Linked DNA regions of Homo sapiens. The protein of the gene in region 7 purifies or fractionates together with the protein of the main gene of each other region. This does not show direct contact. Each region holds a gene or a part of one and is shown on either strand. Other genes may lie near its edges. The genes, in order: RCC1, DPM1, SPTLC1, ETFA, COG5, LIPT1 and SLC25A28.

What was found.
Region 1: the proteins of SLC25A28 (region 7) and RCC1 purify together in Homo sapiens (affinity purification with mass spectrometry, with the first as the bait; one large-scale study listed by BioGRID). This does not show direct contact.
Region 2: the proteins of SLC25A28 (region 7) and DPM1 purify together in Homo sapiens (affinity purification with mass spectrometry, with the first as the bait; one large-scale study listed by BioGRID). This does not show direct contact.
Region 3: the proteins of SLC25A28 (region 7) and SPTLC1 purify together in Homo sapiens (affinity purification with mass spectrometry, with the first as the bait; one large-scale study listed by BioGRID). This does not show direct contact.
Region 4: the proteins of SLC25A28 (region 7) and ETFA purify together in Homo sapiens (affinity purification with mass spectrometry, with the first as the bait; one large-scale study listed by BioGRID). This does not show direct contact.
Region 5: the proteins of SLC25A28 (region 7) and COG5 purify together in Homo sapiens (affinity purification with mass spectrometry, with the first as the bait; one large-scale study listed by BioGRID). This does not show direct contact.
Region 6: the proteins of SLC25A28 (region 7) and LIPT1 purify together in Homo sapiens (affinity purification with mass spectrometry, with the first as the bait; one large-scale study listed by BioGRID). This does not show direct contact.

Annotation. Positions count from the first base shown.
Region 1 is NC_000001.11:28,523,043-28,526,542, reverse strand, and holds part of RCC1 (regulator of chromosome condensation), read right to left. Parts: intron 186-3,500; exon of another isoform or gene 1-185. UniProt on the Homo sapiens protein: Guanine-nucleotide releasing factor that promotes the exchange of Ran-bound GDP by GTP, and thereby plays an important role in RAN-mediated functions in nuclear import and mitosis.
Region 2 is NC_000020.11:50,948,533-50,952,032, forward strand, and holds part of DPM1 (dolichol-phosphate mannosyltransferase subunit 1), read right to left. Parts: intron 131-3,500; coding exon 97-130; intron 1-96. UniProt on the Homo sapiens protein: Transfers mannose from GDP-mannose to dolichol monophosphate to form dolichol phosphate mannose (Dol-P-Man) which is the mannosyl donor in pathways leading to N-glycosylation, glycosyl phosphatidylinositol membrane anchoring, and O-mannosylation of proteins; catalytic subunit of the dolichol-phosphate mannose (DPM) synthase complex.
Region 3 is NC_000009.12:92,049,414-92,052,913, forward strand, and holds part of SPTLC1 (serine palmitoyltransferase 1), read right to left. Parts: intron 655-3,500; coding exon 547-654; intron 1-546. UniProt on the Homo sapiens protein: Component of the serine palmitoyltransferase multisubunit enzyme (SPT) that catalyzes the initial and rate-limiting step in sphingolipid biosynthesis by condensing L-serine and activated acyl-CoA (most commonly palmitoyl-CoA) to form long-chain bases.
Region 4 is NC_000015.10:76,301,470-76,304,969, reverse strand, and holds part of ETFA (electron transfer flavoprotein subunit alpha, mitochondrial), read left to right. Parts: intron 1-3,500. UniProt on the Homo sapiens protein: Heterodimeric electron transfer flavoprotein that accepts electrons from several mitochondrial dehydrogenases, including acyl-CoA dehydrogenases, glutaryl-CoA and sarcosine dehydrogenase.
Region 5 is NC_000007.14:107,235,421-107,238,920, forward strand, and holds part of COG5 (conserved oligomeric Golgi complex subunit 5), read right to left. Parts: intron 1,268-3,500; coding exon 1,030-1,267; intron 1-1,029.
Region 6 is NC_000002.12:99,160,802-99,163,637, forward strand, and holds the end of LIPT1 (lipoyl amidotransferase LIPT1, mitochondrial precursor), read left to right. Parts: intron 1-625; exon of another isoform or gene 626-720; coding exon of another isoform or gene 721-867; intron 868-1,155; 5' UTR 1,156-1,156; coding exon 1,157-2,278; 3' UTR 2,279-2,336; downstream 2,337-2,836. Other genes in the region: MITD1 (MIT domain-containing protein 1), read right to left, coding at 721-867. UniProt on the Homo sapiens protein: Lipoyl amidotransferase that catalyzes the transfer of lipoyl moieties from lipoyl-protein H of the glycine cleavage system (lipoyl-GCSH) to E2 subunits of the pyruvate dehydrogenase complex (PDCE2).
Region 7 is NC_000010.11:99,617,640-99,621,859, forward strand, and holds the start of SLC25A28 (mitoferrin-2), read right to left. Parts: upstream 2,801-4,220; 5' UTR 2,697-2,800; coding exon 2,406-2,696; intron 2,394-2,405; exon of another isoform or gene 2,109-2,393; coding exon of another isoform or gene 2,088-2,108; intron 1-2,087. UniProt on the Homo sapiens protein: Mitochondrial iron transporter that mediates iron uptake. Probably required for heme synthesis of hemoproteins and Fe-S cluster assembly in non-erythroid cells.

The DNA.
Region 1 (3,500 bases), on a different chromosome or scaffold from region 7:
ACGATGTGAACTTTGAAGTTGTTGCAGTCTCAGTGGATTCCCACTTTAGCCGTCTTGCCTGGATAAATACACCAAGAAAGAATGGTGCTTTGGGCCACATAAACATCGCACCCTTGTCAGATTTAACTAAGCGAATTTCTCGAGACTTCGGTGTGCTGTTAGAAGGTCCTGGTCTTGCACTAAGAGGTCTCTTCATAATTGACCCCAATGGAGTCATCAAGTACTTGTTTTTGTTTGTTTGTTTGTTTGTTTTTTTGAGACAGCATCTCACTCTCTGTTGCCCAGGCTCAAGTGCAGTGGCACAATCACGGCTCATTGCAGGTTTGACCTCTTGAGCTCAGGTGATCCTCCCACCTCAGCCTCTAGAATAGCTGGGACTACAAGTGCGCATCACAGTGTCCAGCTAATTTTTATATATTTTGTAGAGACAGGGTTTTGCCAAGTTGCCCAGGCTGGTCTAGAACTCCTGGGCTCAAGCGATCTACCCGCCTCAGCCTCCCAAAGTGCTGGGATTACAACAGCTGTGAGCCACCATGCCCGGCCGGAGCCACAGTCTTTAAGGTCATGAAAAACAATCAAGTTGTCTAAGCCTCTACCTAATGTTACGAAGGGAAGGAGAACTCCAAGAGCCCTTCTCGGTCTCAGCTCTGGGCCTAACCAGCAGCCCCCTCATTCCTTCCTTCTAGTGGTTCCCGAGAACCTCGCCTCTCTAGCTCTCCCCTCCATGGTATATGGACACAAGGCCAGGCACTTTTCTGCTGATTATCCTGGGGAAGGAGAACTAAATACTAAAGATGGGAAAGTAACCAAAGGTCTAGAATCCTGATAAGCCTTTGCAGGCTGAGCTTCTGCAGGTTGTCACTGGCCCAGTTCTGACTGATGAGGTGGCAGTTCTGAACTTCACCCAACTTTTATTCTCCCAGGGCTGAGAATCCTCCCACCTGTCTTTTGAGACCCCTTGTCCCACACTAAAAAGTGCACATTCTTTGGGATTAGAGGGAACTGGGTTCACCTTCCAGAGCTTGTGGCTGGCCAGTTGCCTTAACCTCTCTGAACTGTATCCTCATCTATAAAAGGGGATGCAATGACTACTTCTCAGGGCTGTCATCAAGACTGAATGAAATGGTTGTAAATCCACAAATATTTATAGTGCTTTACTACTAAGGGAGGAGACCACCCCTCATATTGTCTTATGCCCAATTTCTGCCTCCAAAGAAGTAAAAACTAAAAGGCAGAAATGAAATCCACAGGCAGACAGCCTGGCGCCGCGACCTGTGTCTGGTTAAAGATCGACCCCTGACCTAACCGGTTATGTTATCTATAGATTCCAGACATCGTATGGAAAAGCACTGTGAAAATCCCTGTCCTGTTCTGTTCCGTTCTGATAACCAGTGCATGCAGCCCCCAGTCACATATCCCCTGCTTGCTCAATCAATCACGACCTCTTCATGCAGACCCCCTTAGAGTTGTAAGCCCTTAAAAGGGACAGGAACTGCTCACTCGGGGAGCTCAGTTTTTGGAGACGTGAATCTTGCCAAAGCTCCCAGCTGAATAAAGCCCTTCCTTCTTTAACTGGGTGTCTGGGGGGTTTTGTCTGCGGCTTATCCTGCTACACTACTGCTTGGCTTTGGGTGAGGAGGTGTAGCAAGGATAAAGGAGACTAACCCTTTTTTACTCTCATAATTTGTTCATCCTTTGTATTTATTTTTGAGACAGGGTCCTGCCCAGACTTGAGTGCAGTGGCATGGTCATGGCTCACTGCAGCCTCAACCACCCGGGCTTGAGCCATCCTGGATAGCTGGGACTACAGGTGTGCACCACCACGCCCGGCTAATTTTTGTATATTTTGCAGAAACAACGTCTTGCCATGTTGCCCAGGCTGGTCCCGAACTCCTGGGCTCAAGCGATTCTCTAGCCTTGGACTCCCAAAGTGCTGGGATTATAGGTGTAAGCCACCATGCCTGGCCTTTTATTTTATTTTTTTAAGAGAGGGGGTCTCACTCTGTCACCTAGGCTGGAGTGCAGTGGTGCAATTAGCTTATTGCAGCCTCGAACTCATGGACTCAAGCGATCTTCCCACCTCAGCTTCCCAAGAGCCTGGGATCATGGGCACGTGCCACAGCACTTGGCTTGATTTGTTCATCCTAAAAAAGTCCAGAGGATTCTTGGCAGGCCTGCCCAAGATCCCCCTATGAGCTTGGCCAAACACAAAGACTCCCAGGCTTGGGCTTAAATGACCAGGTAGATGGTAGACTTCCATGTAGTGAGATAGAGAACACTGTTGAACAAACAGGAGAGAAGAGACGTGAAGCTCCATGTTGCTAGGTGTTTTCATTCAATCTGAAGTGCTTGGGAGCCATCCCAGAAAGGATGTCAGGCAGGCAAAGTTAGATGGGGTAGGGATGTGGGATATAAGAGGCATCTTTGTGGCCGGGCACGGTGGCTCACGCCTGTAATCCCAGCAGATTGGGAGGCCAAGGCGGGTGGATCACCTGAGGTCAGGAGTTCGAGACCAGCCTGACCAACGTGGAGGAACCCCATCTCTACTAAAAATACAAAATTAGCCAGGCGTGGTGACGCGTGCTGTAATCCCAGCTACTCGGGAGGCTGAGGCAGGAGAATCGCTTGAACCCAGGAAGTGGAGGTTGTGGTAAGCCGAGTTTGCACCATTGCACTCCAGCCTGGGCAACAAGAGTGAAACTCTGTCCCTCCACCAAAAAAAGAGGCACCCTTGTTTTAGATAGACAGCTGTATGCCAAGGCAAACATCTCATCAGTTCATCAGAATAATCTGTAGCAGTCTGCTGTGCCTGGGAGGGAGACTGTATTAGCATGAAAAGTACTCACAATAAGAAGTCAGGAGAAAAAGCAGGAAACAATTATGTCAGCACAGTTGGTGCTGATGGCTGGGCTGCCATGAGCACAGCCCGGAATGGAGTCAGACACATAAGGGCTATATGAAGTGTTGGTGTCATGGGGCATTAACCAAAAAATCTGTTATCATGGATGGAACAAACCCAGTCAACATCTCCTTAGTTGTGTTTGGCTAATATTCTGGAGCGTTTCACTACAAGCTGGCCACAATGATCCCACTCTACAGAGAAGAAAACTGAGGCTCAGAAAGGTGAAGTATCTCACTCAAGATTGGAAGAGAAGGCCAAGATCTGAACCAAGTTAGTCAGACTCCAGAGCTGGCGTCCTTGAGTGTTATTAGAAATTTCTTCTGGCCGGGCGCGGTGGCTCACGCCTGTAATCCCAGCACTTTGGGAGGCCGAGGCGGGCGGATCATGAGGTCAGGAGATCGAGACCACGGTGAAACCCCGTCTCTACTAAAAATACAAAAAATTAGACAGGCGTGGTGGCGGGCGCTTGTAGTCCTAGCTACTCGGGAGGCTGAGGCAGGAAAATGGCGTGAACCCGGGAGGCAGAGCTTGCAGTGAGTCGAGATCACGCCACTGCACTCCAGCCTGGGTGACAGAGCAAGACTCCGTCTCAAAAAAA
Region 2 (3,500 bases), on a different chromosome or scaffold from region 7:
CTGTATTTTGGCCCTATTCCAAACTGGGAAAATACACACTGGATCATGTCACCAAGCAAGCAGCAGGTGTGAGGGGTTAGAGATTACACGACTTACCTAGTCCCAACTTTTTCTCTCGTGGTCTTAGAAGCTGTAGGAATAAGAAATAGCATTTTACACACAGAAACAGAAATCTTATCATGTTAAATTTTATCTTATTCAAAAGTGCATACTCACTTTAATAGAAATATAGTTGCACTTGTTAGAACTTAAAGCAAAGTATCCTTAATATTTTTTTGCCAAAAGAAAAAAAAAAGCATTTGGTAACAAACCAAATAGTTTAACGTAGCTAACATTTTTTTTTTTTGAGATGCAGTCTCGCTCTGTTGCCTAGGCTGGAGTACAGTGGCGTGATCTCCGCTCACTGCAACCTCTGCCTCCTGGGTTAAAGTGATTCTCCTGCCTCAGCCTCCAGAGTAGCTGGGATTACAGGCATGCACCACCATGCCCGGCTAATTTTCGTATTTTTAGTAGAGACAGGGTTCCACCGTGTTAGCCAGGATGGTCTCGATCTCCTGACCTCGTGATCCGCCCGCCTCGGCCTCCCAAAGCACTGGGATTACAGGCATGAGTCACCGCGCCCGTCCAGCAAAGCAACATTCTTTAACCCTGACCCTACAATCACAATTTTAAACTTTTTTTTCTGGTGTCACTCACTCTATTTTAAATATGTCTTTACATCTATATTTGATTTTCCTTTTAAATCTATTGATTCCTTCCTAGAAAAATGTAGGACTTACTTCATTATTTTGCACCTTCTTGGGAAATCTGATGTTTGTTCTCTCGATTCCCTTTGGGTTTTGAATACTAATATCACTCTTCCTCTATTAACTTATCTTGACCTTATGCTTGGATGACCTCATCTCCTCTACTGGTCCAAGGACATGTCATATTCCTAATTAAATTCTTTCTCTTTTCTTACTATTGGTCAATCACTTAGTCCTCCTAAATCTTTTTGCTTAATAGTTGGAGCCTGACTTTTACTTGTTTAGTTTTTCCTTTTGGCTGGACACTTTAAAAGTCAAATGCCAAAGTTCTCACTGTGCCCTACGTTTCTGAGGTATGGGGTTCAGGGAGACTCATTAGTGAGCATGTCTTGTCTATCTTGTCCCCTTCTACACTTGCCAGTATATAAGCAGGTTGCCTCTGACTGCAAATCTCTCAACAAAGCATTTTCAATTAAAGCAGATGATTTTTTTTTTTTTTCACTATATGCAATCTGCTGGAGGTTTCTATTTGCATGGAATGTCTTTTTCCATCCCTTCACTTTGAGTCTATGTGTATCCTTACAAGTCAAGTCTTTTGTGGGAAGCATATAGTTGGCTCTTTTTTAAAAAATCCATTCAGTCACTCCAGGTCTTTGGAGAATTTAATCCCTTTATATCCAAGGTAATTACCGACATGTAATGTAAGAACTTCCTACTGCCATTTTGTTAATTGCTTCTAGTTGTTTTGTAGATCTTTTGCTTCTTTCTCTTTCTCCTTTCCTTTATGATTATCTTCTGTACTATTATGCTTTGATTCCTTACTTTTTATCTTTTGTGAATCTACTTTAGGCTTTTCCTTTATGATTACCATGAGACTTACAAAACCCATCTTATAGTGATAACAGGCTATTTTAAGCTGATAACAATCTAACTCTAACTGCTAAAAAGAAATCCTCTACACTTTTACTCCACTATCCCCACATTTAAAAAATTTTAAGTCACAATTTGTATCTATAGCAAAGTACATCTTGCATAAAGATGGATAAAATACACTGCTGTCTGGTAAGAGCTTACAGGAAGGAAAGACATTCAAATAAGCATCTATGATAATTGCAAGTCACTGAACAAAATCGAGCAGGATATATCAGATCACAGCTAGATTTTATTTGATTTTGTGAATAATTTCTGACAAAATACTGATCCCCATCTGGTATCTGCCCTGAAAAAGCAAATTTTTTAAAGCTCATCTGAGATTTTCTACAACTCTGTTTTAGCTGGAAAATCTTTCTTTTAAAAAAAGATAACTTTGGCCAGATGCAGTGGCTCACACCTGTAATCCCAGCACTTTGGGAGGCTGAGGCGGGTGAATCATTTGAGGTCAGGAGTTAAGAGACCAGCTTGGCCAACGTGGTGAGACCTCATCTCTACTAAAAATACAAAAATTAGCCAGGTGTAGTGGCACGTGCCTGTAATCCCAGCTACTCAGGAGGCTGAGGTAGAAGAATCGCTTGAACCCGGGAAGTAGAGGTTGCATGAGCTGAGATCACACCACAGCACTCCAGCCTCAGTGACACAGTGAGACTCCGTCTCAAAAAACAAACAAACAAACAAACAAACAAACATAACTTTGTTACAGTTGCACACCCCCTTAACCCCAAGTGATACTTTCTAAGACCCCCAGGAGATGCCTGAAATCTCCAATAGTACCAAACCTTATATATACTTTTTCTTATACATACACACCTATCACAGTTTAATTTATAAATTAAGCACAGTAAGAGATTAACAATACCCAATAATAAAATAAAACAATTACAACAATATATTGTAATAAAAGTTATGTGAACTTGGTCTAACTCAAAAAATCTTCTTGTACTGTACTTACCTCTTTTCAGACTGCAGGTAACAAATCACGGAAAGCAAAACCATGGACAAGGAGACTATGATACTTATAATTTTCAGAATCTTCAAAGGTTTATATAAAATATTAGAGTATTATGGAGCCATTAACAGAAATGAGGTGAGCTGGTGACAAAAGATCGCCAAGACAGAATTAGAAGTAATGATGATACAGGAAGATGGCAGTTATGTTTTAAAAAACAAGACCACCACACTACCTAGTTCTGCAAATGCACATACACACATATATGCACAAAAAAACGCACCAAACTGTTGACCTGGGTCTCCCCTGTGCAAGGGAATGGGATGCCTATAGAAAATGTTCATCAGGTCGGGCGTGGTGGCTCACGCCTGTAATCCCAGCACTTTGCGGGGCTGAGGTGGGCAGATCACCTGAGGTTAGGAGTTCAAGAAGAGCCTGACCAACACGGTGAAGCCCAGTCTCTACTAAAAATACTAAAATTAGCCAGCATGGTGGTGCAGGTCTGTAATCCCAGCTACTCGGGAGGCTGGGGCAGGAGAACTGCTTGAACCCAGGAGGCAGAGTGTGCAGTGAGCTGAGATCTTGCCATTGCACTCCAGCCTGGGCGACAGAGCGAGACTCCAATCTCAAAAAAAAAATAAATAAATAAATAAATAAAATGTTCATCAAAGGCAACTTCGGTTTTACTGGTAACATTTATATTTTACAAGGATGTGCTTGTTTATTTCTTATGTAGGAAATCCAAACTATTTCTATTTGGTATGCTTTACTTTCAGACTCTTAATTCCACCTCTCCACCCTCCCCTGATCCTTTTTTGCCTCTTCATATCAATCTGATGGCCCCTTTCTATGTGAGGCAGGATAGCATTACA
Region 3 (3,500 bases), on a different chromosome or scaffold from region 7:
GAAACATGACACCTCATTCTGTTTGGGACTTTAAGAGGTTTTGCTGAATGCATGCCAGTGGTGTTTCTGACACACACACACATGCACACACACACGCACGCACGCGTAACTGTATCTACCTCCCACAAACACATTATATAGAATACAGATTTTTAAACACCAGAAACAGTATCCTTTCTCTGCCGTCATGAATACTTCTGAAAAGACCACTCAGGAAATTCCTAATGATTTTAAGAAATAATTGGAAGGCAAAATTTAACCATTTCTAGAGAAGAGACACTAAAAGTCTATTCGAATGAAACTTTGCAAACAGAGCACAAACCATGACTACCCACTCCGAGTTTATAAGTGCAGAAGGAAGATGGGGTTCCCTGGTCTGGCTGACTAGACTCATCCTGGGCTCACTGAGGTGACAGACACCAAAGTTTCGTGACCCTTCAAACTGATAAGGAACACTGTCTTGTGCCTATAAAAATATAGGCCTAGCAGAATGGAACTACATGTCTCCTATAAGAGGGGAAACGTTCTTAAAAAAGGGGAACTTACATTGATTCCATAGTGTTCAGTGACTCCTCGGCCATGCTCTCCTAGGACTCCAAATGAAAGGCTTTCCTCCAGGAAGATTCTTGCTTTGTATTTGTATTTTAACTTAACCTAAGTGTTATATAAACGTTAAAATACTAATGATTAGCACCATATAGAACATATTATGGAGAAAAAAATTAAGATTAAAAAGTATGTACAGCTGACTCTCAATACTTGTGAATTCTATATGTGCAAATTCATCTACTTATTAAAACTTATTTGCAACCTCCATATCAATACTTTTTTCCTGTCATCACGGATATGTGCATGTGCAGAGCAGTGAAGAATTTGAATTACCTGACACGTGTTTTCCCAGGTGAGGGTGAACAGGCGACTGTTTCAGCTCTGATCCTGTGAACAACTACCCTTTTCATGGCCTATTTACTGCCACTTTTTTGGACTTCTGTGCTTTTTGTTGGTGATTTTGCTATTTAGAGTCGCCCCCAAGTGTCATGCTAAAGTGCCGTCTATTACTCCTAGTGCTGTGATGTCCCTTATGGAGAAAATTTGTGTGTTAGAGAAGCTTTGTTCAGGCATGAGTGGTAGTGCAATGAATCAACAGACATTAAATAAGACACCTTTAAACAAAAATACACATAAAGCAAGTTTTGTGTCAACTGGTTGATGAAAATGTTGTAACCAGAGGCTCAGAGGAACCTAACCCTATTATTTGCCCTAGCAGCAATAGTTTAGTATTTCTTATTCCAGTGTTCATGGCAACTTTATAGAATATAAGTAGGGTGAATGATGAGAATCAATTGTCCTTTAGATGGTCTAAAATGATTCACTTAACAAAAGACAGCACAATACTGATTTTTTTTTTTTTTTTTTTGAGACAGAGTCTTGCTCTGCCACCCAGGCTAGAGTGCAGTGGTAGGATCATGGCTCACTGCAGCCTTGACCTCCTGGGCTCAAGTGATTCTCCTACCTCCGCCACCCAAAGTGTTGGGATTAAAGGTGTGAGCCACCATGCCCAGCTTCAGTGCTTATCTACACTTGAGCTGTTCCTACACTTCATCTTTAGTTTCGTATCTGTCCATTAGCACTGCTTCATTACTGTAGCCCTATAATATACGTCCTAGTATCTTCTGGTTCACTACCTCCCTCCCATTATTCTATCAACCATTGACACTCTTACAAAAACAAAAAGAAGAAAACAAATACATCTCTTCTATTGATACTTAAAATATATTTAGATTTCCTCAGAAATAGTGAAAACATTTAAAAACAACATATGGAACCCTTATTTTGAATCCTTATTCAATTAATAGACTCCTAGATTAAAATCTCAATGGCCGAATGCAATGGTGGTTCAACATGGAAAAATCAAATATGTATTACATACACATTAGAAGAATGTAGGGGGAAAAACCCCACATGATCATCCCAATAAATGCAGAAAAAAAATTTGACAAAATCCAACAACCTCTCATGATAAAACACTCAATAAATTAAAAATGGGAAGGAACTTCCTCAACCTGATAAAAGGTTATTATAAAAAACTCACAGCTACCATCATACTCAATGGTAGAAGACTGAAAGCTTTCCTTATAAGATCAGGAACAAGACAAAGATGCTCATTTTCGCCACCTGTAGTCAACACTGTAGTCGAGGTCCTAGCCAGGGCAATCAGGCAAGAAAGATAAAGGGCATCCAAATTGAAAAGAAACAAGTAAAATTATCTCTATTCACAGATGGTGTAATCTTATACATAGAATAAGATCCACAAAAGTATTATTTGAGCTAATAAATTCAGCAGAAGTTACATTATGCAAAAGCAATACACAAATATCTGTTGTATTTCTATAAATAGCAGTAAACAATCTAAAAAGGAAATTAAGGAAACAATTCCATTTATAGTAGAATAAAAAAATCAAATACTTAGTGATAAATTTAACCAAAGAGGTGCAGGACGTATATACTAAAAATCACAAAACATTGCTGAAGGAAATATCTAAATAGATGGAAAAATCCCAAGTTCATGGACTGGAAGACTTAATATCATTAAGATGGTAATACTTCCCAATGTGACTACATATTCAATGCAATCCCCACCAAAATCCCAACAATACTTTTTACAGAAATGGAAAAGCTAATCCTAAAATTCAAATGGAATTTCAAGAGACCCCAAATAGCTAAAATAATTTTGAAAAAGAACAAAGTTGAACTCACATGTCCTGATTTCAAAACTCACTACAAAGCTACAATAATTGACACAGTGTGGTACTGGCATAGGACAGATATATAGAAGAATGAAACAGAATAGAGTCTAGAAATAAACCCATACATCTATGGTCAATTAATTTCAACAAGGGTGCCAAGACCAGTCAATGGGGAAACATTAAACAAATGATGCAGGCAAAACTGGATAACCACTTGTGAAAGAATAAAATTGGACCTCTTCATCAACGCATACGCAAAAATGAACTCAAATGAACTACAGACCTAAATGTAAGACTGAAAACTATAAACTCTTAGGGGGAAACATAGCAATAAATCTTGATAATTTTGGATTAAACAAAGATTATTATTATTATTTTTTTTTTTTTGAGACAGAGTCTCGCTCTGTTGCCCAGGCTGGAGTGCACTGGCGTGATCTCGGCTCACTGCAACCTCCACATCCCAGGTTCAAGCAATTCTCCTGCCTCAGCCTCCCGAGTAGCTGGGATTACAGGCGTGTACCACCACACCCGGCTAATTTTTTTGTATTTTTAGTAGAGACGGGGTTTTACCATGTTGGCCAGGCTGGTCTCGAACTCCTGACCTCAAATGATTCACCTGCCTCGGCCTCCCAAAGTGCTGGGATTACAGGCGTGAGCCACCGTGCCCGGCCAGATTAAACAAAGATTTTAAAATAAAACACAAAAGCACAAGCAACAACAAAACACATAAACTGGACATCATCAAAATTTTTA
Region 4 (3,500 bases), on a different chromosome or scaffold from region 7:
CTGGGTTCACGCCATTCATCTGCCTCAGCCTCCCAAGTAGCTGGGACTACAGGTGCCCGCCACCACGCCCGGCTAATTTTTGTATTTTTAGTAGAGACGGGGTTTCACCATGTTAGCCAGGATGGTCTCGCTCTCCTGACCTTGTGATCTGCCCGCCTCGGCCTCCCAAAGTGCTGGGATTACAGGTGTGAGCCACCGCTCCTGGCCGAGGATTTTCTTTAGATAAAAACATCACTTCATTTTTTAGTTTTGTCTAAAATCATTTATCATTGCTGTATTTTTTCCCCCAATTTTTTTTTTTTTTTTTTGAAATAGAGTCTTACTCTCACCCAGGCTGGAGTGCAGTGGTGTGATCTTGACTCGCTGCAGCCTCAACCTTCTAGGCTTAAATGATCCTTCCATCTCAGCCTTCCAAGTAGCTGGGGCTACGGGAATGCGCCACCACATCTGACTAATTTTTTAATTTTTATCTTTCATAGAAACAGGGTCTTACTGTATTGTCCAGGCTGGTCTTAAACTCCTGGGCCAATTTTAGGTTTGCAGGGTATCTGTGCAGATTTATTATGAGTAAACCGTGTGTCCTGGGGGTTTGATGTACAGATTATTTTGCCGCCCAGGTAATGAACATAGCATCCAATAGGTAATTTTTTGATTCTCACCCTGCTCCCACCCTCCACCCTCAAATAGGCCCAGGTATCTATTGTTCCCTTCTTTGTATCCATAGGTATTTGATGTTTGGCTGCCACTTACAAGAGAGAACATTCCATGTTTGGTTTTTCTGTTCCTGCATTAATTCACTTAGGATAATGGCCTCCAGCACTGTCCATGTTGCTCTAAAGGACATGATCTCATTCTTTTTAATGGCTGTGTAGTATTCCATGGTGTATATATACCACATTTTCTTTACCCAGTCCATCCCTTGCATGGGCATCTAGGTTGATTCCATGTCTTTGCTACTGTGAATAGTGCTGCCATGAACATGCACATGCATGTATCTTTATGGTAGAATGGTTCATATTCCTTTGGGTATATTCCCAATTATGGTATTGCTGGGTCGAATGTTCTAAGTTCTTTGAGAAATCGCCACATTGCTTTCCGCAGTGGCTGAACTAATTTACATCCTCACCAGCAGTATATAAGCGTTCCTTTTCTCTGCAACCTTGCCAGCATCTGTTGTTTTTTGAGTTTTAAATAATAGCCATTCTGACTGGTGTGAGATGTCTCATTGTGGTTTTTATTTGCATTTCTCTAATGATTAGTTAATGTTGAGCATTTTTTTATATGCTTGTTGGCCACATATGAGAAGTGTCTGTTGATGTCCATTGCCCATTTTTTAATAGGGTTGTTTTTTGCTTGTTGATTTAAGTTCCTTATAGATTCTGGTTATTAGACGTTTGTCAGATGCATAGTTTGCAGATTTTTTTTTACCATTCTGTAGGTTGTCTGTTTACTTTGTTGATAGTTTATTTTGCTGTGCAGAAGCTCTTTAGTTTAATTAGGTCTCACTTGTAAGTTTTTATTTTTGTTGCAATTTCTTTTGGAGTGTTCGTCATGAAATCTTTGCCAGGGTCTATGTTCAAAATGCCATTTCCTATGTTTTCTTCTTGGGTTTTTATAGTTCGAGGTCTTACATTTAAATCATTTTTTGTTTGTTTGTTTTTTGAGATGGAGACTTGCTTTGTCACCCAGGCTGGAGTGCAAGGGTGCAATCTTGGCTCACTGCAACCTCCGCCTCCTGGGTTCAAGCAATTCTCCTGCCGCAGCCTTCGGAAGAGCTGGGATTACAGACTCCTGCCACCACGCCCAGCTAATTTTTGTATTTTTAGTAGAGACAACAGGGTTTCACCATGTTGGCCAGGCTGGTCTCGAACTCCTGACCTTAGGTGATCCACTCGCCTCGGCCTCTCAAAGTGCTGGGATTGCAGGTGTGAGCCACTGCACCTGGCAGAAGTTTTTTTGTTTTGTGTTGTTTTGTTTTTAAGTAGAGTTTGGCCTGTGTGGTAGTACACATCTGTAGTCCTAGCTACTCAGGAGGCTGAGGCAGGAGGATCCCTTGGGCCCAGGAATTGGACGCCAGCCTGGGCAACATAGAAAGACACTGTCTCTAAAAATAAAATTTTTTGAAAATAGACTTTATGTTTTAGAGCAGTTTTAGGTTCACAGCAAAATCCAATGGAAAGTACAGAGAGTCTTCCTGGTCCACACACCCACAACCTCCTCCACTGTCAACATACAGCACCAGAGTTGTCCATTTGTTACAATTAATGAATTTACATTGACATCAGCATTTCCCAGAGTCCATAGTTTACATTAGGATTCACTCTTTGTGTTGTACCTTCTATGGGTTTGGACAAATGGATAATGACAGGTATCTACCATTATTATATCATACAGAATAGTTTCACTGCCCCCGCCCCCACTCCCCCTGGAAAAAACAAAACAACAACAACAAAAAACCTCTATGCTTTGTTCTCCTAATCCCTGGCAGTCACTGATCTTTTTACTGTTTCTATAGTTTTGCGTTTAACAGAGTGTCATATAGTTGGGATTAGACAGCATGTAGCCTTTTCAGACTGTTTTTTTTTTCACTAAGTAATATGCATTCAAGGTTCCTCCATGTCATTCTCATTTCTTGTTACTGCTGAATAAGATTCCATTGTATGAATATTTATTCACTTACTGAAGGACATTTTGGTTGCTTCCAAGTTTTGGCAGTTATGAATAAACCTGCTGTAGACGTCTGGTTTTTGTGTGGACCTAAGTTTTCAACTCATTTGGGTACGTACAAAGGAGTGCAGTTGCTAGATTGTATGGTAAGATTATGTTTAGTTTTATAAGCAACTGCCAAACTGTCTTCCAAAGTGGCTGCACCAGTTTGCATTTTTACCAGCAATGAATGAGAGTTTCTGTTGTTCCACATCCTTACTAGCATTTGGTATTGTCAGTGTTTTGGTTTTTTACCATTCTAATAAGTGTGTAGTGGTATCTCGTTTTAATTTGCAATTTCCTAGTGAGCATCTTGATGTTGAGCATCTTTTCATATGCTTCTTGGCCATCTTCTTTGGTGAGGTACCTGTTCAGATCCTTTCCCCCTATTTAAATCAGATTGTTCATTTTTTATGTTGACTTTTAAGGGTTCTTTATTTTTTTTAGATAAGTCTTTTATCAGATATGTCTTTTGCACATATTTTGTCCCAGTCTATGGCTTGTGTTCTCATTCCTTTGATGAAGAGGTGTTTGTTTTGTTTTGTTTTGTTTTGTTTTGAGATGGAGTCTCTCTCGCCTAGGCTGGAGTGCAGTGGTGTGATCTCGGCTCACTGAAACATCCACCTCCAGGGTTCAAGTGATTCTTGTGCCTTAGCCTCCTGAGTAGCTGGGACTATGGCGTGTGCCACCATGCCCAGCTAATTTTCGTATTTTTAGGAGAAATGGGGTTTCACTCTACTGACCAGGCTGGTCTCGAACTCCTGACTTCAGGTGATCCATCGGCCTCGGCCTCC
Region 5 (3,500 bases), on a different chromosome or scaffold from region 7:
CCAGCCAGGTGTGGTGGCTCACGCCTGTAATCCCAACACTTTGGGAGGCCAAGGCGGGTGGATCACAAGGTCAGGAGTTTGAGACCAGCTTGGCCAATACGGTTAAACCCTGTCTGTACTAAAAATACAAAAATTATCCAGGCGTGGTGGCGCGTGCCTGTAGTTCCAGCTACTCGGGAAGCTGAGGCAGAGGAATCACTTGAACCCAGGAGGTGGAGGTTGCAGTGAGCTGAGATTGTGCCACTGCACTCCAACCTGGGCGACAGAGCAAGACTCTGTCTCAAAAAGAAAAAGATTTTACCCTTGGTATGCTATACAAAAATAACAATCATCTTTGTTTCTGAATCTTTTAATGAAAGCATGTTTGGGGTTTTTCTTCATTGCCTACTGAAAGGCTTTAAAAAATCTGTCTAAAGGACAAAGAAAACGCTTTCTATAAGAGCTGATAATGTTTTGCTATTTTAATGTCATTCTATCTCTCACACACATCAGATAGCCTGAAATGATTTCAAGGCTAGCCACAGAGAAGAACTGTACTCTACCTGATAGAGAGAGAACAAATAATCAGACTCTATGTCTACCTGGCCCACTGTGCATTTAAAGGAATGGGAACACTGCCTCGGAATGGTGACATGGCAACAAGCGGTCTCTTTTCACTGTTTGAAATATGATTTCATTGCCTACATTATTGGTCAGCAAGGTTTGACCTATTGGGACAGTAAAATAGTGAGAAAATCCCATATGAAATAAAAATGGGAAGTGCTGCTTTCCTGTGGAATGAGCTATTTCACCTTAACCTTGAAATACCAAAGAGAGGGATAATTATTTTGTTAAATACAAAGAAAAATATATCTGGTATAAAAGTATCTTTAAACTCTCCCTTTTTTTTTTTAACTATTTATGCTTAAGTGGGCTTACTTTTCTTTGTGCTGCAACTCTTTAAAAACACCGATGAAAACACATTCTTTCATTTAATAGATGATATTGAGGCCAAAACATTTTTTCTTTTGTAGTAATTCATCAATGTACCTGTGCAAAATCAGCAGCAAGTCGCATTTTCCCACCTTCACCAAGAGGTCTTATGAGACTGGCATGGCGGATAAAAAGTTCAACAGCTCTTTGGGCAATAGCCTCAGTGTTGTCAAAGACAAAATCCAAGCATTCAAAGTGTTTAAAATAGTCACTCATAACTCTGGCAATGAAACCTTGTAGCTCCTTCATGTACAGAGAACAAGGAACATCAGGTTTTCCTGAGCTGGATAATGACCTGTAAAAGAAAAAGCAGCCCTTTTCAGCACCGCTGCACTAAATCACACTCTTTGATTTTGTACCCCTCTCCCCACCAATGCTGCTATTTCAATCCTTTGTAATGTTTTCCCTTAATGGTATAAAAGACATTAATTACTTTTTGATAAGCGTTAGCAGAAAACAATGTTTAAAAATTACATTTCAAAAAGTGGTTTAGATGCCAGGAGGATTACTGAAGGAATTTTAGAATCCATTTACCTAAAGATTATTAAGAATGAAATAGACAACCATCTGTCTTGGATGAATCATACAAGTGCTACTCTCTGGCCTCTCAAGGTCCCTCCCAGCCTCTCAATTCTCCATCCACTCACATGTTTTGCCTGCTAACTGAATGCATCAATAATGGATCCTGAAATAGCATTTTATGCTTTGCAATGACAGAAAATGCTGCTTTCCCTATACAAATTCTTGGCAAAGATCTCTCTGCTCTTGTGCTATTTAATCAGATCAGTCCAACAGAATTCTGACTGTGGAAATGGTTATGTAACAGTACACATGGCATGCAGTTTTTTCCTCTAGATGATGAGGTTTGGAAAGGCTTTAATTTGGATCAACAAATGATACCAGCTGATGCTCCATGAAATACTATTTATAATTTATAAATGTTTATAATTGCTCTTTAAAGAATATATTAAAAGAATGTGAAATATTTATAGGAAAGAGATATACCAAAACTAGCTAACACCTGATATTTTCTAATAAATGAGATCACTGGCTACATCATGCTGAATCTTTTTCAAAAAGCAAGTTAAGTGTTTCCATATTCTGAGAATGACGTAGAGAAATTGGTGATGGTCTATAGAAGAACAACAGATATGACTAAAATGCTTAGAGCAAGAGAATGAGTTGAACTTAATTATCTTCAAATACAGCAGTGGTTACTATAAATAGGATGCTAACCAGAGGTCCGTCACTTTCAGAAGCAGATAGAGATAGAAGAAGTAGGCCTATGTTCCAGCAGGAAGGGATTTCATACAGGTATAAGACTGTGCCAACAACAGCAAGGCTGCTGAAGGGTGTATGGTGCAACATTTTTGTTTGCAGTATCATCACATGATGGAGTGGCGCTTGGGTACAGGGGAGCCTTAGTAAATGACGGCCATCTTCATGTGGGGTTTGGTTTTCCCAGATTCAGACAACTGCATAGCCTAGCTTTACTCTAGGTTTGTCACTCCACAAGGCCAGGCTGCAAAAACAAACAAATAAAAGAAGCCTCCCTATCCGAAAATGGTGCCAATCTATTTCATTTTTTTAATGTTTATTTTTGATGAATTATAATAATATATAATAAGGGGATACACAGTAATGTTATATGTATACAGTGTGGAATGACTGAATCAAGGTAATCATACTCATCACCTTAAATACTTATCATTTATTCCTCCTAACTGCAACTTTGTACCCTTTGACCAACATCTCTCTATTCCCTCCACCCCATAGCTGCTAACTGCCATTCTACTCTCTGTTTCTATGTATTCGGTTGTTTTAGACAACAGATATGTGAGGTCATGTGGTATTTGTCTTTTGGTGTCTGGCTTACTTCACTTAGCATAATGTTCTGTAGGTTCATCTATTTGTTGCAATTAACAGAATTCCTGTCTTTCTGAAGGCTGGATGGTATTCCATTGTGTATGTATACCACATTTTCTTTATCCATTTATCAATCTAAATGTTGGTGGACATTTAGATTGATTCCATAACTTGGCCATTGTAAGTAATGCTGCAATGAACATGGAAGTGCGTATATCTTTTGACATACTGATTTCAAGTTCTTAGGTTATGTATCCAGAAGTGGGACTGCTGGATCATGTGGTAGTTCTGTTTTTAGTTTTTTGAGAAACGTCCTTACAGTTTTCCATAATGGCTGCCTAATTTACATTCCAACCACAGTATACAAGGGTTCCCTTTTCTGTACATCGTCTTTCACACTCGGTATCTTTCATCTTTTTGATAAGTCAATTCTGACAGGTGTGAGGTGCAATCTCATTGTGGTTTTAATTTGCATTCCCCTGATGATTAGTGATGTTGAATGTTTTTTCACATATCTACTGGCCATTTGTATGTCTTCTTTTGAGAAATGTCTGTTCAGGTCCTTTGCCTATGTTTAAATCAGGTTGTTTTCTTGTTATTGATTTGAGTTCCTTATATATTTTGGACGTTAATCCCCGTATCAGATGTATGGCTTGTAAGTA
Region 6 (2,836 bases), on a different chromosome or scaffold from region 7:
AAATTATTTTTAAAGTGTTATAAAGACATAATGAAAGCTTTCCACGGAAATGTTCATGAACACATCGTTGATAACCAGAAAAACTAGAAGCCACCTAAAATTACAGACTAAGAGACTGAGTAAACTTGTTAACAATGGAATATTAAACAGTCATTAAAGCTGATGCAAAATAGATTTAATGGGCCAACGCGGTGGCTCATGCCTGTAATCCCAGCACTTTGGGAGGCTGAGGCGGGCAGATCACCTGAGGTCAGGAGTTCCAAGACCAGCATGGCCAACATGGTGAAACCCCATGCCTACTAAAAATACAAAATTTAGCCACACGTGGTGGCAGGCGTCTGTTATCCCAGTGAGGTAGGAGAATCGCCTGAACCTGGGAGGCGGAGGTTGCGGTGAGCCAAGATCACGCCACAGCATTCCAGCCTGGGTGACAGGGCGAGACTCCGTCTCAAAAAAAAAAAAAAAAAAAAAAAAAAAAAAAAAAAAAAAAATATATATATATATATATATATATATATATATATATATATATATATAGATTGAATGTCGAATGAAATAATAGTATGGGGAGGGAAATGTGTGTGCGTATACATGCTTAGAAATAAAATGGGTTTACACCAAAATGTTAATTGTGATTAGGACTATCAATGCTTTTATTTTTTTCTTCTTGCTTGTCTGTATTTTCTCATTTTTCTCGATGAACATTTGTTACTTGTGAATTCAACATAATTTGGCTTTAAGATATAGGTAATGTGGCTGAGTGCAGTGGCTCATGCCTGTAATCCCAGCACTTTGGGAGGCCAAGGTGGGAGGACTGCTTGAGCCCAGGAGTTTGAGACCAGCCTGGGCAACATGGTGAAATCCTGTCTGTAAGAGAAAAAAAAAAGATATATTACATAATGTATTTGCAGCAGACTTATTGTTTGAAAACTGTGAAATTATTTCAACTGAAATTATTTGAAATTTGTCTTCATTTATTTCTTTTGAATACTTGGTTATAGCATTGCTAAAGACTAATTGTAAAGCTAAAAGCCAAAAGCAACTGCACTGGATACTTTAAGTTTGGATTAAATAACCGATAATTGATAGTTAGAAAATAGAATTTAATGTTCCTTTTCTCGATGAATTAATTTGTTTGTCTTCCATTTTTAAAAGCATGCTGATCCCATTTTCAATGAAGAATTGCTTCCAGTTACTTTGTAACTGCCAGGTCCCAGCAGCTGGCTTTAAAAAAACAGTAAAAAATGGGCTCATTTTACAGTCAATTTCCAATGATGTCTATCAAAATCTGGCTGTGGAAGACTGGATCCATGACCATATGAATCTAGAAGGCAAACCAATTCTATTCTTTTGGCAGAATTCTCCCTCTGTTGTAATTGGTAGGCATCAAAATCCTTGGCAGGAATGTAACCTGAATCTAATGAGAGAAGAAGGTATAAAACTGGCTCGGAGAAGAAGTGGAGGAGGAACAGTCTACCATGATATGGGTAATATCAATTTGACTTTCTTTACAACCAAAAAAAAGTATGATAGAATGGAAAATCTGAAATTAATTGTGAGAGCTCTGAATGCTGTCCAACCCCAGCTGGATGTGCAGGCTACCAAAAGATTTGACCTTTTACTTGATGGACAGTTTAAAATCTCAGGAACAGCTTCTAAGATCGGCCGGACTACTGCCTATCACCATTGCACTTTATTATGTAGTACTGATGGGACGTTCTTGTCTTCTTTGCTAAAGAGCCCTTACCAAGGGATCAGGAGCAATGCCACTGCTAGCATACCTTCCTTAGTGAAAAATCTTTTGGAAAAGGATCCCACTCTGACCTGTGAAGTACTAATGAATGCTGTTGCTACAGAGTATGCTGCTTATCATCAAATTGATAATCACATTCACCTAATAAACCCAACGGATGAGACACTGTTTCCTGGAATAAATAGCAAAGCCAAAGAACTGCAAACTTGGGAGTGGATATATGGCAAAACTCCAAAGTTTAGTATAAATACTTCCTTTCATGTGTTATATGAACAGTCACACTTGGAAATTAAAGTATTCATAGACATAAAGAATGGAAGAATTGAAATTTGTAATATTGAAGCACCTGATCATTGGTTGCCATTGGAAATACGTGACAAATTAAATTCAAGTCTTATTGGCAGTAAGTTTTGCCCAACTGAAACTACCATGCTAACAAATATATTACTTAGAACATGTCCACAAGACCACAAACTAAACAGTAAATGGAATATTCTCTGTGAAAAAATTAAGGGAATAATGTGATTCCAAGTAAATGTCTTAATACAGTTTCAATTAGAAAATAAAATGTCTCATACTTGCACATTGTATGTCAAAAAAAAACCTAGTCTCTTTTAGTAACGTCAAAAAAAAAAAACAAAACACAACAACCTAGTCTCTTTCAGTAACTTCTCCCCATCTGAAATTCTTTATCACCTATCCCTATCTGTGTATTTCTTCTGACCTCTAGGATCCTCTTTCTTCTCTTTCTTCCTTCATTTATTTTATTTTATTTATTTCATTTATTTATTTTGAGACAGAGACTCACTCTCACCCAGGCTGGAGTGCAGTGGTGCGATCTTGGCCCACTGCAACCTTTACCTCCTGAGTTCAAGTGATCCTCATGCCTCAGCCTCCCGAGTAGTGGGACTACAGGGTTTTGTCACCATGCCCAGCTAATTTTTTCTATTTTTAATAGAGACAGGGTTTCACTGTGTTGGCCAGGCTGGTCTCAAACTCTTGGCCTCAAGTGATCCGCCGACCTCAGCCTCCCAAAGTGCTGGGATTACAGGTGTGAGCCACCATGCCCTGTCTGTTCATTGA
Region 7 (4,220 bases):
AAATCATACTGGCCTCACCTAGTTCTTCCCTCTAAGTCATTTAAATCCCAGCATTAAGTGCAAGTGAAAATGAGCCTTCTAAAATAAGCTTTCGTATTGTTGACAACTCCTGAGCATTTTTTTCTCAAATCATTATTTCCTTAATAGAGGGCTTTCAGGCATAACTGCTATGTTGTATGACTAATTTTTAAAAAACAAAAATTCCAAAGTTTATGTAAATGAGTAAGAACTGTTCTTCAAAATAGTTACCTTGGAAGGCTACAATTGACTTATTCCAGCAAAGCTGTGGTTATGCAAAACCTTTCTGGAACTTCTCTTTCAGAGGTGTTTCCTCAACGGGTTTATAGGCCTCAGAAGTAAAGCAGTCTCCTTGCTTTCCAGTCCCACCTTATTTTGATGCCAAGCAGTATTACCCATTTTGACCTCCCACTTTATTCACCATATTTGATTCTGAATAGTCTTTGTTCTTGCAAAATCAATTCCATCTTGTCACAGGGCAAAGATTTGCCTCCCTTAAGGACATGCACCCAAATATTCTAGAAGCATTTTTAACAGGGATTTATAAAATGTTTATAGCAACAATAGCACTATGTAAATATATGGAGTAAGGAGATAACCTCCCGTTCTGTTATAATGGAACAGTGGTTAAATTGATAAGTTACAGTAATATTTCTAAGACAAATTATTACACTGTATTTTTCAAGCCATTACATAATTTTCACTGTTTTCATTGATCTGTTTTCCATTCAATACTCATCCAGAAAAACAGCATCCTAAACCCTGCACTCTACTCACAGTCTAAGTCTAGGGAGGTTACTCTGCAGCTAGATTATATTAACTTTTGGATATACGGCATTATTAACTCACAAGTCATTCAACCTAGAGTCTATACATATAATGTGTGCATCTTTTTTATTTATACTTGTTTTACATTTCAATGTTGTTACTTCTCTCTCATGGATTTTACAGTTTATTTCTATTTCTCCCAATTGACAAGGACATTTAACATTCTAATGTCCATTTTAGTCAAGTGCATTTACCCCGTTTTCAATGGATATGGCCCTTGTTAGGAGTTACCTTGTGTTAAAATACTCCTGCCAGTTTGCTGTCATTCACAAAGCTTAATGAGCGCTCCCCCCATTTCCTTATCCACATTCTAATGAAAAACATGAAACAGTACTGGAACCAAAGGGAAGTAAAAGGGATCTACTTTGCCTTTCCCAAGTTGATTCTCTCCTCCTTTTGAATACATAACACTTTCCTGATTTGAAGAGAAAACATACATCAAAAAGCTGCCAGGTCACTGTTTGACTATTACCCTTCACATGTAAAGGAGGCATCGGTCTTTGTCATATCAACAGTCCCCTCTAGTTTACCTCTCCCTCAATTCAGTCCTCACCTTTAATGGCTGGCACCTTTACTAATGTACAAGAATAAGAACTGTAAAGAACAATAATCTGTTTCTTTCTTCACCCAGCTTTCTTCAGAAGGACCTGACTTCAGTACACATAAATCATCCTGCTTGGTTGTGAATGCAATTAGTTTTACTTTCACAAGAATCGTGTCCTCTTGTTGATCTCTTTCCATTTTCTTCATACTTACATCTACTTTCTAATACCGTCACACTTCCTTTCTAGGCAACTTCTCCCTTTTTGCCAACTTCAGGTGGCCAAAGAAATATGCTATCAGTTTCATCTCTCTTGTTTGGAGGCTGATGTGCTCCCTGAACATACAGTCCTAATCCCAGCTCAATTTTCATGTTCAGGAAATAGGTGGGGTATCATGCTTGCTTCACAGAGAAACTGAAACCTATTCCTGAATACGATCTTTCCCACATTACTTCCAGTCTGGAATTCTGCATTCTCACTGCACAATGATTTCCAATCACTCATGTGTTAAGATTTAACATGTAAGTCCTTTATCTAGCTGAGAGATCCCAGATTCGGGTTCCTGCCCCGTCAGTAAGGGAAGATACAGCAAGGAGTTTGTAAAAGCACTAGCCCAGAAAACATCTCAAGCCGTTAGATCCATTTCAGGGTCTGGTTCACGCCAGTTGGCTTCACCTTAATCGAGTTAGTAGCACTTACCTGAGCTTCGGGATACCCCATCCCACCCTATTCCTGTTTAGTCCCAGGTGGGGTCCAGGGCTTTGGCTGACAGATTTTCGATCCTGAGTCCCGATTCAGATTTCACTGACGGTTAGAAATAGGTCCTGGTTCCTGACTGGGATCAACTCCCAGCTGGGACCTTGCTTGAATGGAGTGTCGGTTCGAATCATGTGGTAGTGGCAGGAGCCAGGAAGGAACCCATGTCGGCTCCGGCTCTCAGCCGGGATCCTGGCTCCGGACAAGACCCAGGGGTCGGGTCAGCCCCAGGTCGGGTTCGAAGCCGGGTGCAGGTCTCACCTTGACGCAGTCGATGGGGTACATCACGCAGTGCTCCAGGATCCCTGCCACGGCGCCTGCCACCATGTGCGTGGTGACAGTGGCTCCAGCCGGCAGCGCCTCGTAGTCCGGGCCGGAGTCCGGATCTTGTCGTACCGGGGGCCTGCAGGCCCCGGCCTCCCCGCCGCCGGCCCCCCGGCCCACGCCCCGCTGCAGCCACCCGTCCAGCAGCGCCGACTCCCCGGGGCTCCGCCCGGGCCCTGCCGCCGGCCCCCCCGCCACACCGCCAGCACCCCGCCCCTCCAACTCCATCCACCCGGGCCAGCTGCGGCGCCCACCCCCGCCGCCGCTGCCACCACTGCCGCCGCCGCCCCCCGGCCCCGTAGTGTCCGCCTCAGGCGCGGCCCAGAGAGCCCGGGGCCTCCGGCTCCCGCTTGGCCCCGCGGACACGCCCCCCAAGCAACCATTGGTGGAGACGCCAAGTTAGACCCACCCCTTTCCTTACGTACGAAAAATCAGCCGGTAGTATTAGCGAAGTCGCCTGTCATTCCTCCGCCCTGAGGCGTTGCTAGCGCCTACATCCCACCTTTTCCCCTTTGATCTTAGAAGCTTCTTGTTTATTGGTCACTGATTGGCCGACATGTGCGATCAACCCGCCTCTGACTTTTAGAAGGGCGGGAGAAACTTAAGGCTGAACTTTGATAGGCTCAACCACTCTTGATACTTTGACCGCGGCCATTGGCCCGCACCACGTCGGTCCCCGATTGGCTACAGAAAGAGCGACGCGCCCAGGGACTCTAGGGGCCGACTTCGGGCCCCTCACTAGCGCCTGCAGAGCTGCGGTCCCTGTGCGCGGGATCGCGTCGGGGGCGGGGCGGCGACAGGCCTTCAACGTCAAACTGCTGACGGGCGCCGTTACGACCCGCGCTCCCGTGCGCTCCTCAAATTCTGAGACGCGTGGCTGGAGAGCGGGCGGCCCTGGCCCCGGAGAGCCGTGTTCCCGCGGGATCTCGTCGCGGGCGTGAGGCGGGGCCGGCCTGGGCCGGTCATCCCTGGCTGGCGCGACCCGCAGCCTGTCCGGGAAGCCGTTGCGACATGCGGGCTGGGAACCGCCTCACCTCCAGGGGGGACCGCGGCGGCCCGCTAGACTCTGGTCGGGTCTGGAGTATTGGGCCCTCTGGCCGGACTCGGTGCTCCTCAGGCCCCAGCGCCCGGCACTGAGCCTCGCATCCACATTCGCAGAGTAAACCCAACAAGTGTTGAATGAATGAGGTTCCCCGGGCCCCGGCTGTCACTGGGCTCTGCGCCAGGCCAAGAGCCGAAGGCGGGGGAGGAAGATGTCGAAATGGGCGGGATGATTCACAGATGACGGCCGGTGGCGAGGCGGGGCTGGAGGCCGCATCCCAAAGGCAGCAGGGAAGTGCGGCGGCTGTGGGGAAGCTCGGACGCACGGCCTGGCCGAGTCTGAAGCATCAGTATTTTGTCCCTGAGCCGGCGCGCTGATGGGTCCCCCGCCTGGCGATGAGGGCTTCTCCCTCCCTCGGGTCAGCCCGGGTCCTGAGAGGCAAGGCCAGCGATTCCCGGCCTTAGGACCTCCTGCTCTAGGGAGCACGGGCGTCTTCTTCCATTTGCCTTCCCCGAGCGTGTTGGCACAAGCTGCCCGCGGTTTCCAGCTCTGTCTTCTCTGTTTTACCCAGATGATGCAACTGTGGACTTCTCCATCTGTTCATAGGTTTTCCTTGGATAGGAAAGATGTTTTCCTTTTTTCTTTCTAAAGTTTAGCTCTTCTCTGGGCTTCCTTTTTAAAAACTTTTTCTACTCTCTTCAGCAGTTGTT